Regions from separate parts of the Homo sapiens genome. Here region 2 is linked to region 1. Evidence: fine-mapped expression QTL. A gene starts in region 1. The other region holds a variant in brackets. All regions are shown on one strand. Distances are from middle to middle.

Region 1 (4,384 bases):
CAGGAGTTTGAGACCATGCTGGACAACATGGTAAAACCCCATCTCTACAAAAAATACAAAAATTGGCCAGGTGTGGTGGCATGCGCCTGTAGTCCCAGCTACTCAGGAAGTTGAGGTGGGAAGATCACCAGAGCCCAGGGAGACTGAGGCTGTAGTGAGCCGTGATCATGCCACCGCACTCCAGCCTAGGTGACAGAGAGAGACACGGGAAAAAAAAAAAGAAACCTAAAGAAAAGAAAGGGTCTGCAGGTCCCCTAATCCAAAAGGAGAAAAGTCCTGAAGTTTTTGCTATTTTCACTCTAACCAGTATGGTGCCCAGAGATCCAAGTGGCAGATAAATGGCAAGCCTCCAGGATAGCACAGAGCTGGAGGGAAAGTGAGGGCTGCCTGACAAGGGAGGGCCACCCATCATACTCTCTCCCCAATGTTAATTCTTCCAGCCACTCCTGGCTCAAACAGGACGCTAAGAAGTATCCCCAAAGGGAGTCACCCCCACTGTTGCCCAGTAAATAATTTAAAAGCAAAAATGTAGGAAACTCAGGAGAAGGTCAAACAAGTCCACTAGAGGGAGCCCCAACCAACTCTATGCTACAGGGAGCCTCACAAAGCAATGTCTCAACACCTGTCTGAAAATCAACCACACAAGGGAATGGGGAAATGTAGCAATAGATTAAGTCACTAGGAGAGAAGATAGCCATGTAAACACGCAGCTAAAACACAGGCTTTTCAAGAGCTGCAAAATCAAACAATTAAAGATCAGGAAACTGATGCTGAGCAAAGTCAAATGGCTCGCCTCAGTTTACATATCCACAGTTGGGACTCAAACTCACATGTCTTGTCTCTAACCTGAGCTCTTTCCTCCACACTTGCATCCCTCTAGGTCAGTACCCTAGAGTCCATGGGTCCACTATTCCTCTGCGTCTCATTTCTCTGAAGTGGGAAACTCCCTGGACTACCTATTCCTGCACTTATTACCCTCATTCTACAGTGTACTGAAGAGGATCTTCGGTGGTCTGGGAGTTTTGTTTGTTTGAGACAGGGTCTCCCTCTGTCATCCAGGCTGGAGTGCAGTGGTGCAATCATAGCTCACTGCTGCCTCAACCTCCCAGGCTCAAGTGATTCTCCTGCTTCAGCCTCCCAAGTAGCTGAGACTACAGGTGTGCACCACCACACCAGGCTAATTTTTTAATTTTTTTGTAGAAATGAGGTCTCACTGTGTTGTCCAGGCTGGTCTCGAACTCCTGGCCTCAAGTAATCCTCCTGCCTCAGCTTCTCAAAATGCTGGGATTATAGGCACGAGCCACCGCCCCAGCTTAGATCTTCAGTTTTAAGCCTACTAATGTCATTTTGCTGGTGGGACCTCGGGATGTCAGTTGTCCAACATGGCTACTGTCAGTCCTTTTCCTCTGTATCAGCACCACATATTATCTCAGATGTGTACATCTGAATTTGGAAGTCTCCAAATTGCAGGCCATGTCTACATGGCAATGAATCATAACTAATCGACCTCCAAAGCCCTTTCTTTTCAAACTATACTTAGGATTTTGGGATAAGGAAAGAACTGACCCTTTGAGACCTTGATATTTTAAACTTTGTGAGCTGATTTAGCCCATTCCACCTTCCTGTGAACTCCATGTTTCCCAGTTGCCTGGACAACATACAGCCTCTGGAAACCCAACCTTCCAGCCCTCAGTCCTGCCCTCAAGAGAAATTTGCCACCAAGGATTGGCTCCCAGGACCCAGGCCCCGCCTCAGGCTCCTCGCTAGTTGGGCCTTCTCTCTGCCACTCCCCACGAGTGGGTCACTCCACGGGGAGCCCCAACGCTGGCAGGAGAGGATCCTACAGGTAGGAAGTGAGGGTTGAGGATGATGGGAAGAGGGAGGGGAGCAGGTACAGGGATTTCGTTTCTCTAAAAGAGAGTTGCAAGGAATGACTTCTGTACAGAGTCAGCCTGGTTGAGAGAAAAAACTCCATCCTCCCCACTGACCCCAACCCTGTCTGAGGTTCCAAAGAGACTGTGAACTGACTTTTCTGAAGGATATGAGAGACAAATTTGGACTCAGGAGAGTCTCCTGGTTCAGTCTAAAGCTCAGGAAAGCATCCCTGTGTCCAGACCTAAACATAAGGTCCCCTCCTTCTCCCAGGACAGCAAGGAGATGCCACCTAAAAACAAAGAAAAAGGGAAGAAATCTGGGGCACAGAAGAAGAAAAAGAACTGGGGTGAGTCATGGTGGGTGGAGGTGCCCCCTGCTTCTCCATGTTCTGCCATGAAGACCACGCAGAGCTCCTCCAGAGAGAATTCAGCCTTCTGCAGGACAGGATGGAGCTCTCTTGACCTACCTCTTTCATGTCCTCACAGCCAGATCCAGGGAGCTGAGGAAGTGGGGAAATGGTCACCCACGCTCTCCTTTAAGCCCCATCTAGCTCTGTGCCTTCCTAATATATTTGTCATGTGTATTTTGCATATCTGTTATGTGCTGGTCGGTGAGGACACGGTGCTGACTTCAGTAGACTCTGCCACTGTGGATACCTCATTTAGTGGTCCTCAGGTCTGCTGTGGCAAAAGTGCAGGGTGTGGGGTGAGGATGTGAGCAGAGTGAGGAATGCTGAGATCATGAAGAGCTGAGGCTCTGCCACTTGCCACCGCAGGTGCAGATGTGGTGGCCGAGTCCAGGCACAGGCTGGTGGTGCTGGAGAAGGAGCTGCTCCGAGACCACTTGGGTAAGGAGGGTAGAAGCTGGCATGGGTGGGCAACAGGGGAAGTGAAATGGGGCATTTCTGTATCCTGGGGGATTGGAGAGTTGGAGGTATGGTGGGGGGTTAAGTTGACCCTAACCATCCCCTAGTGGAAAAAGATGATGAGAGAGGGTGGGCAGTGAGAGTTGATAAAGGAAGGTGTTTTTTTTGTTTGTTTGTTTTTTGTTTTTTTTGGTTTTTTTGACAGAATTTTGCTCTATTGCCCGGGCTGGAGTGCAGTGGTATGGTCATAGTCCACTGTAATCTCTAACTCCTGGGCCGCAACAATCTTCCCGCCTCAGCCTCCCGAGTAGCTGGTATTACAGGTGCACACCACCATGCCTGGCTACTTTATTTATTTATTTTTTTTTTTTTTTTTTTTTTTTTTTTTTGAGACAGAGTCTTGTGCTCTGTCGCCCAGGCTGGAGTGCAGTGGTGTGATCTCGGCTCACTGCAACCTCTGCCTCCCAGGTTCAAGCGATTCTCCTGCCTCAGCCTCCCGAGTAGCTGGGATTACAGGCACGTGGCCACCACACCTGGCTAATTTTTGTATTCTTAGTAGAGACGGGTTTTCACCATGTTGGCCAGGCTGGTCTCGAACTCTTGACCTTGTGTCCCACCAGCCTTGGCCTCCCGAAGTGCTGGGATTACAGGCGTGAGCCACCGCGCCTGGCCCTATTTATTTTATAGAGACAAGGTCTCACTCTGTTGCCCAGGCAGGTCTCAAACTCCTGGCCTCAAGCAATTCTCCCACCTAAGCCTCCCAAAATATTGGGATTACAGGCATGAGCCACCATGCCAGGCTATCCGAAAAGAACATAGAGGGAGTTTTTACTTCTTAATAATGAGGAGCCTGTGAGACTCTAGGGATAAAAAACAAAAACAACAAAACCCAGAGAGAGAGTAAGAGGCTGGACACCCCACCACCAGATTTCTAGAGGTGGGCAAAGTCCATCACGTTCATGGGGGCTGATTTAGTGGGACCCAGCCAGTCCTGACGGCGGCTCTGGGACTGCTCACAGCTCTACGGAGGGATGAAGCCCGTCGAGCCAAGGCTTCCGAAGACCAGCTGAGGCAGAGGCTGCAAGGGGTGGAGGCTGAGCTGGAAGGGGCCCGAAGTGAAGGGAAGGCCATATATGCAGGTGTGTGGTCGGTTAAGCAGGTGGGCAGGAGACAGGGGCTTGGAGGAGGACAACCAACAGGGTCAGTTGATGCAAGGAAGGGAAACAAGGAGGGCTTCCGACTGCCAGGCCTGGTCTTGGTCTTTCCCAAACAGTACAAATCAGGAAGGATCCTGCAGGAACCAAAGGCAGGTAGGTTCCTGGGATCCCAGGCAGGGGCCTTCCAGGATGCCTGGTGCCATGTGCTTGATGCTGTGTAGGATACACATGCAGTCATAGCCATCATCTCAATCAGCCCATGGGCGGGGAGAAGGGCTAGCATCCCCATCCAAAGCTGGACTGGGGGAGGTAGGTCGGGCTTCCTGTCCCTTCCTCAGGTTTTCATGGTCTGCAGCTTCTCAGAATCACAAAAAGAACCAAGAAGGCCTTTGTGCTCCTGTTCCACTAGACCAAGTAGAGTCTTCCCCACCCACAACTTCATTTCCTTTCTCCATCCCTCCATCTCCAACCTGGGTCCCTGGTGGCC
Region 2 (4,384 bases), 81 kb after region 1:
TTCCCGGAACCCAGAGGGCTTTCCTGGCCCAGGCACTGGAGATCCAGGAAGGGGTATGGAAGGGGAGGTGGGGAATGGGCTGAGAGAACTCGTGCCCTTTCAGAGCTGGGTCCTCAGAGCTGGGGGCTGGGGTTACCATTGGCCTTGGGTTTGGATTTGAAGGAAAAGCGCTTGATAAGGCGGCGAGAAAAGCTGCCGGCCTTCTTTCGGACACTGGGCGTGGCCGTTGCGTTGGAGAGGTCATCGTGTGATTGGCTCAGGCCAGCTTCCTTCTGCCTAGGCCTCCGGCGGAAGATGAGCTTAGTGCCGCTGCGCAGGAAACTCACTGCAGGGGAAGAGGGGAAGCTGAGGCAGAGAGGGGCACGGGGTGGGGTGAGACGGGGGCAGAGACACGATGGAGAATGGAGGGAAAGAGGATGTGGACAGGATCAGTCCCGTGGCCCAGAAGCCAGGCTTCCTCAGGAAAGAAAGCAGAAACATACTTCTCCATAAGGCTTCGTGAAAAAAAGAAAAAAGAAAACGAAAGCAGAAACAAACATGTGCTTTATCCTTCCTGAGGCAAAAATCGTGGTACTTGTGGGGATCTGTGTACAATCTTAACTCTGCCCGCAAAAGAGATATCACGGAGCTGGCCGCTTTGTGAGGACAAACTGGGATTGGGCCTCTTTCCTATGGGAAGACAAAAGCTACCAGAAGGTACTCCCAAAAGTCTATAAATCATGAAGGGAAAGGTAGGTTGACACTGACTTGTTAACCGAATTCCAGGCTGTGAGCAGGAAGTGGTGCATCTAGAAACTTCAAAGAGGTAAATTCAGAACCAGTATAATGAGCAAGGTGCTCACCCAGCAGGCTTTGGAGGTAGAAACCTCATTATCTCAAGAAGTGATGCAGGCTTAAAAAATAGATAGATAGATCCATGGTTGATAGTCTCACTGGTAGAGGAATGAAGATGTTTTAGGGTGAGCCTCTCATCTTTTAAAGTTAGAAGAACTACCACCACTGGTCACTGCCTGTCTTGCTGCCAGATGGATAATCCAAGGGTAGGATTTCTTATACTCATTGGGGAGAGGGTGCAGATTGAAAGGGAAGAATTTTTTTTTTTTTTTTTTTTTTTTGAGACAGAGTCTCACTCTGTCACCCAGGCTGGAGTGCAGTGTCATGATCTGGGCTCACTGCAACCTCCAACCCCCCAGTTCAAGCGATTCTCCTGCCTCAGCCTCCCAAGTAGCTGGGATTATAGGCGCCTGCCACCACGTCTGGCTAATGTTTGTATTTTTAGTAGAGATGGGGTTTACCCATGTTGGCCAGGCTGGTCTTGAACTCCTGACCTTGTGATCCACCCGCTTTGGCCTCCCAAAGTGCTAGGATTACAGGCATTAACCACCGTGCCCAGCCATGGAAAAAAAAAATTTTTTTTGAGACAGGGTCTCACTCTGTCACCCAGGCTGGAGTGCAGTGGCACAATCACGGCTCACTGCTTCAACCTCCTTGAACCTCAACCTCCCAGGCTCAAGGAATCCTCCCTCCTCAGCCCCCTGAGTAGCTGAGATTACAGGTGTGTGCCACTACGCCCAGCCAATTTATTGTATTTTTAGTAGAGATGGGGTCTCGCCATGTTGCCCAGGCTAGTCTTGAACTCCTGGACTCAGGTAAGCCACCCGCCTTGGCCTCCCAAAGTGCCGGTGTGAGCCACCACACCCTGCCTAGGAATAAATTTTTATAATTTTTTTTTAAAGGGCAGGAAAAATGGCACT[T/G]AGACTCAGGAAGAAAGAACAATGGAGGTAAAGGGAAATAATTTGGCATCCCTTCCTATCACAAGCATGTCAGATCTAGGCCAGGAACCAAGGCACCAAGATCCCCCTCTAGGCTAGCTTGGCTGAACTAGGCTGGGAATCCGGCTATCTCTTAGGGGAGGAAGGAGAAGGCACACTGGCTCGAGGTCCCCCAGGTCATGATATGTGTATAAAAGAAGAGATGAGGGGCACCCTGCCAACGTCCCCCTACCTTTGTGATCCTTGAGGCTGCGGGTCTCCAGGGCACCAGTGGACCCCGTTTCCGACTCAATATCATCCACAGATGGCCTCTCAGAAATATCCGAACGGGTTGTCTCGTCTGCTTCCTGGACACTTGTGGGACTAGAGAGGGCATCTAGCGGTCCTGGAGACATGGCTGGTGGGTCTGAGGGAGGTGAAGAGGGGCCTCCGCTGGTCCCTGCATCATCCTGCACTGAGGCTTCCAGGGATGCCGCATAGCCCAGGGATAGCGCCAACTCGTCCTGAGCAATGGGCACCTGGCAGGAGGGACGGGTTTTAATGGGCAGGAGTGACCGACCCATTAGGGCTTTCTCCCCATCCCAGCTCCTCTCCCCAGAGCCCTGTTACCTTGGAAACACCAGAGATGATGAGAGTGCTGCGCTTGGTGGGTGTCTTCTTGGCCACCCGCCCACTGGGCTCTGTCAGCTGGCGAATCGCTGTCTCTGCTACAGGGTCCAAGCCGTTGGAAAGGTGGCTGTCCCCTGCTAGGGGTGCAGAGAATGAATAACCTGACTTCTCCCTGGCTCTTTCTTGGATTGGAACTCCTCCTATCCCACCCAGAGTACTTTTTGATGCTGGGGCACCAGGGCCAACCCACACTCATGCACCCCATTCCCCACTCACGGCTGCTGCTATGGGAGGTATTGCTGGGGCCACTGCTCTCACTCAGCACAGTTGTCGTCTTCTCGGTCACCTCCACCTTGGACGGGGAGCGGGAGGGGGAGTCTGGTGGGTGGGGGAGGGTCAGTGAGCTGGGAGTTGCTTCAGAGTGGCCCCCACCCCTACTGTCTTTGTTGAGATGCAGACTTTGGGTGACTCAGAGGGCAAGAATGATTAAAGGGTGATTAATCACAAGGGTGATTAGGAAGATGCCGTGGGGACTAAAAGACACCCCAGGAGCTAATGGGAGTGTAGGAAAGTGCCATGGGGCCTGCTGAAGGTGTGGGGAGATGCTATGAAAATATGGAGCGGGGACAGAGGGGGTACTGGGGCTCCCTGAAGTTGGGGCAATTCAGTGGGGCCCCTATAATGGCAGAAGTGCCATGGGGGCCCACTGAGTGGGGTAGAAATGCCACAGAGGCCTCTGGGTTTGTTGGAGGACCCCAGGGGGTGCTGGAGGGCTGAGGGTAGCAGGATGGACAATTATAGTCAGCTGGGGCTAAGGACACCTGTGAAAAGCCAGAGGGGAAGCTGGAAGGTAGGAGTGCAACAGTCCTGTATGAGGAGGGGCAGGAGGATCCAGAAGGGTGGCAGAGTGAGAGGAATTGCTGGGGAAATGGCAGGAGGTAAGGGAAAGTTTGGAAGAGACAAAGATTGGGAGGAAGATGTGGTAGGACTGGAATGGAATGTCTGAAAACAGGGGGAGTTGGAATTAAGGCTCTCTCCTCTTTCACTGTCCTGCCTTGGGTCTGCAGTCCCGGGCCCCTGGCTAGAGCTGGGCTCCCAGGCTCCTTCTCTTTACCTAATTTGCCGTCTATACGGGGCCGGGACTGGACAGTGGTGACTGTGGTGACAATGGTGCCATCGGGCATGATGGTCCGGTCAAGCTCAATCTTCTTGGTAGGTGTGATGCTGGGGCGTGGAGTGGAGGAGGTGGGAGTACCCAGGTTCCGGGGAGAGCCCTCCTCATAGTGAAGCTGCCCAGGGGTGGGAGAGAGAAGAGACAGAGCCTCGGAGACTGCCCATCCCCTGTGTCCTCCCACCTACCCCAGGGGTCAGCTTCTCACCTCCACTGCCATGGTGGCTGCTGGTCCCAGGGCTTTCCCTGGCCCTGGGGTGAGTGGGCACAACTGTCTTCGAGACAGTGGTCTGGAGGGGGAGCCCACAGGCAGTGTGGCCTGGCCTAGGAGTTCGGCTGGGGAAAGGGATGGCACTGTGAGCTGGGCCCATGGCCAGACCCCACTCTGTACCCACCCAGGGGTGCCCCTCCCACCCCTCACTTACTGTCTCCACAGCTGCTGCTCCTCAGCACTTTGAGGGTCAGCTCCCGGCTCTGGGGGCCCAGATCCCTGTGGGACAAGAGGAGATGGGGCAGGAAGGAGAAAATTAGCAAGCTGAACCCACACTTGAGTGGATCACAGGCCAGAGGCAGAGAGCTGTGTACATAAATAAAACGGCATAAATGCTCCAATCAGATTCTCCTGGCCTCCAAATTCTCTCTCGTCCCAAGAGAAAGGGACAGGGCCTGAGTGGAAACCATGCTTCTCAGCTATGCATTCAAATCCTCCCTGGTCCTGCTCTTCCTGTCTTGCCAGTCTCTCAGTTGCAAGCCACCCTCTTTCATTTGCTCCAGCTCTTCCCTCTGCCGAGAATACTTTCACACTCTGATGAAATCCTACTCTTGCTCTAAA

Alleles and levels. Positions count from the first base shown, and alleles are read on the strand shown. Sizes are in standard deviations (SD) of each study's normalised expression.
For the expression in pancreas of the gene that starts at base 1,804 in region 1, allele G in region 2 goes with a higher level than allele T (moderate effect, 0.48 SD a copy in GTEx).

What was found. PIP is the estimated chance that this variant, and not a neighbour inherited with it, causes the effect. A credible set is the group of variants that fine-mapping cannot tell apart.
Region 2: its variant is the best candidate, but not a certain one, in a credible set for the expression of DRC12 in pancreas (GTEx, PIP 0.68).

The regions. Positions count from the first base shown.
Region 1 is chr11:119,193,261-119,197,644 of GRCh38, reverse strand. It overlaps DRC12 (dynein regulatory complex subunit 12 homolog), which reads left to right and starts at 1,804. Exons shown (of 7, transcript NM_001145018.3): 1 at 1,804-1,846; 2 at 2,146-2,221; 3 at 2,651-2,722; 4 at 3,760-3,879. The coding sequence starts at 2,158.
Region 2 is chr11:119,111,986-119,116,369 of GRCh38, reverse strand. It overlaps C2CD2L (C2CD2 like), which reads right to left. Exons shown (of 14, transcript NM_001290474.2): 8 at 3,978-4,042; 9 at 3,761-3,888; 10 at 3,496-3,670; 11 at 2,658-2,759; 12 at 2,382-2,515; 13 at 2,005-2,290; 14 at 1-325. The coding sequence ends at 114. Among named protein-coding and RNA genes, the nearest start is that of C2CD2L, 6.8 kb to the right of the region's middle. The variant T/G (reference allele first, on the strand shown) is at 1,755.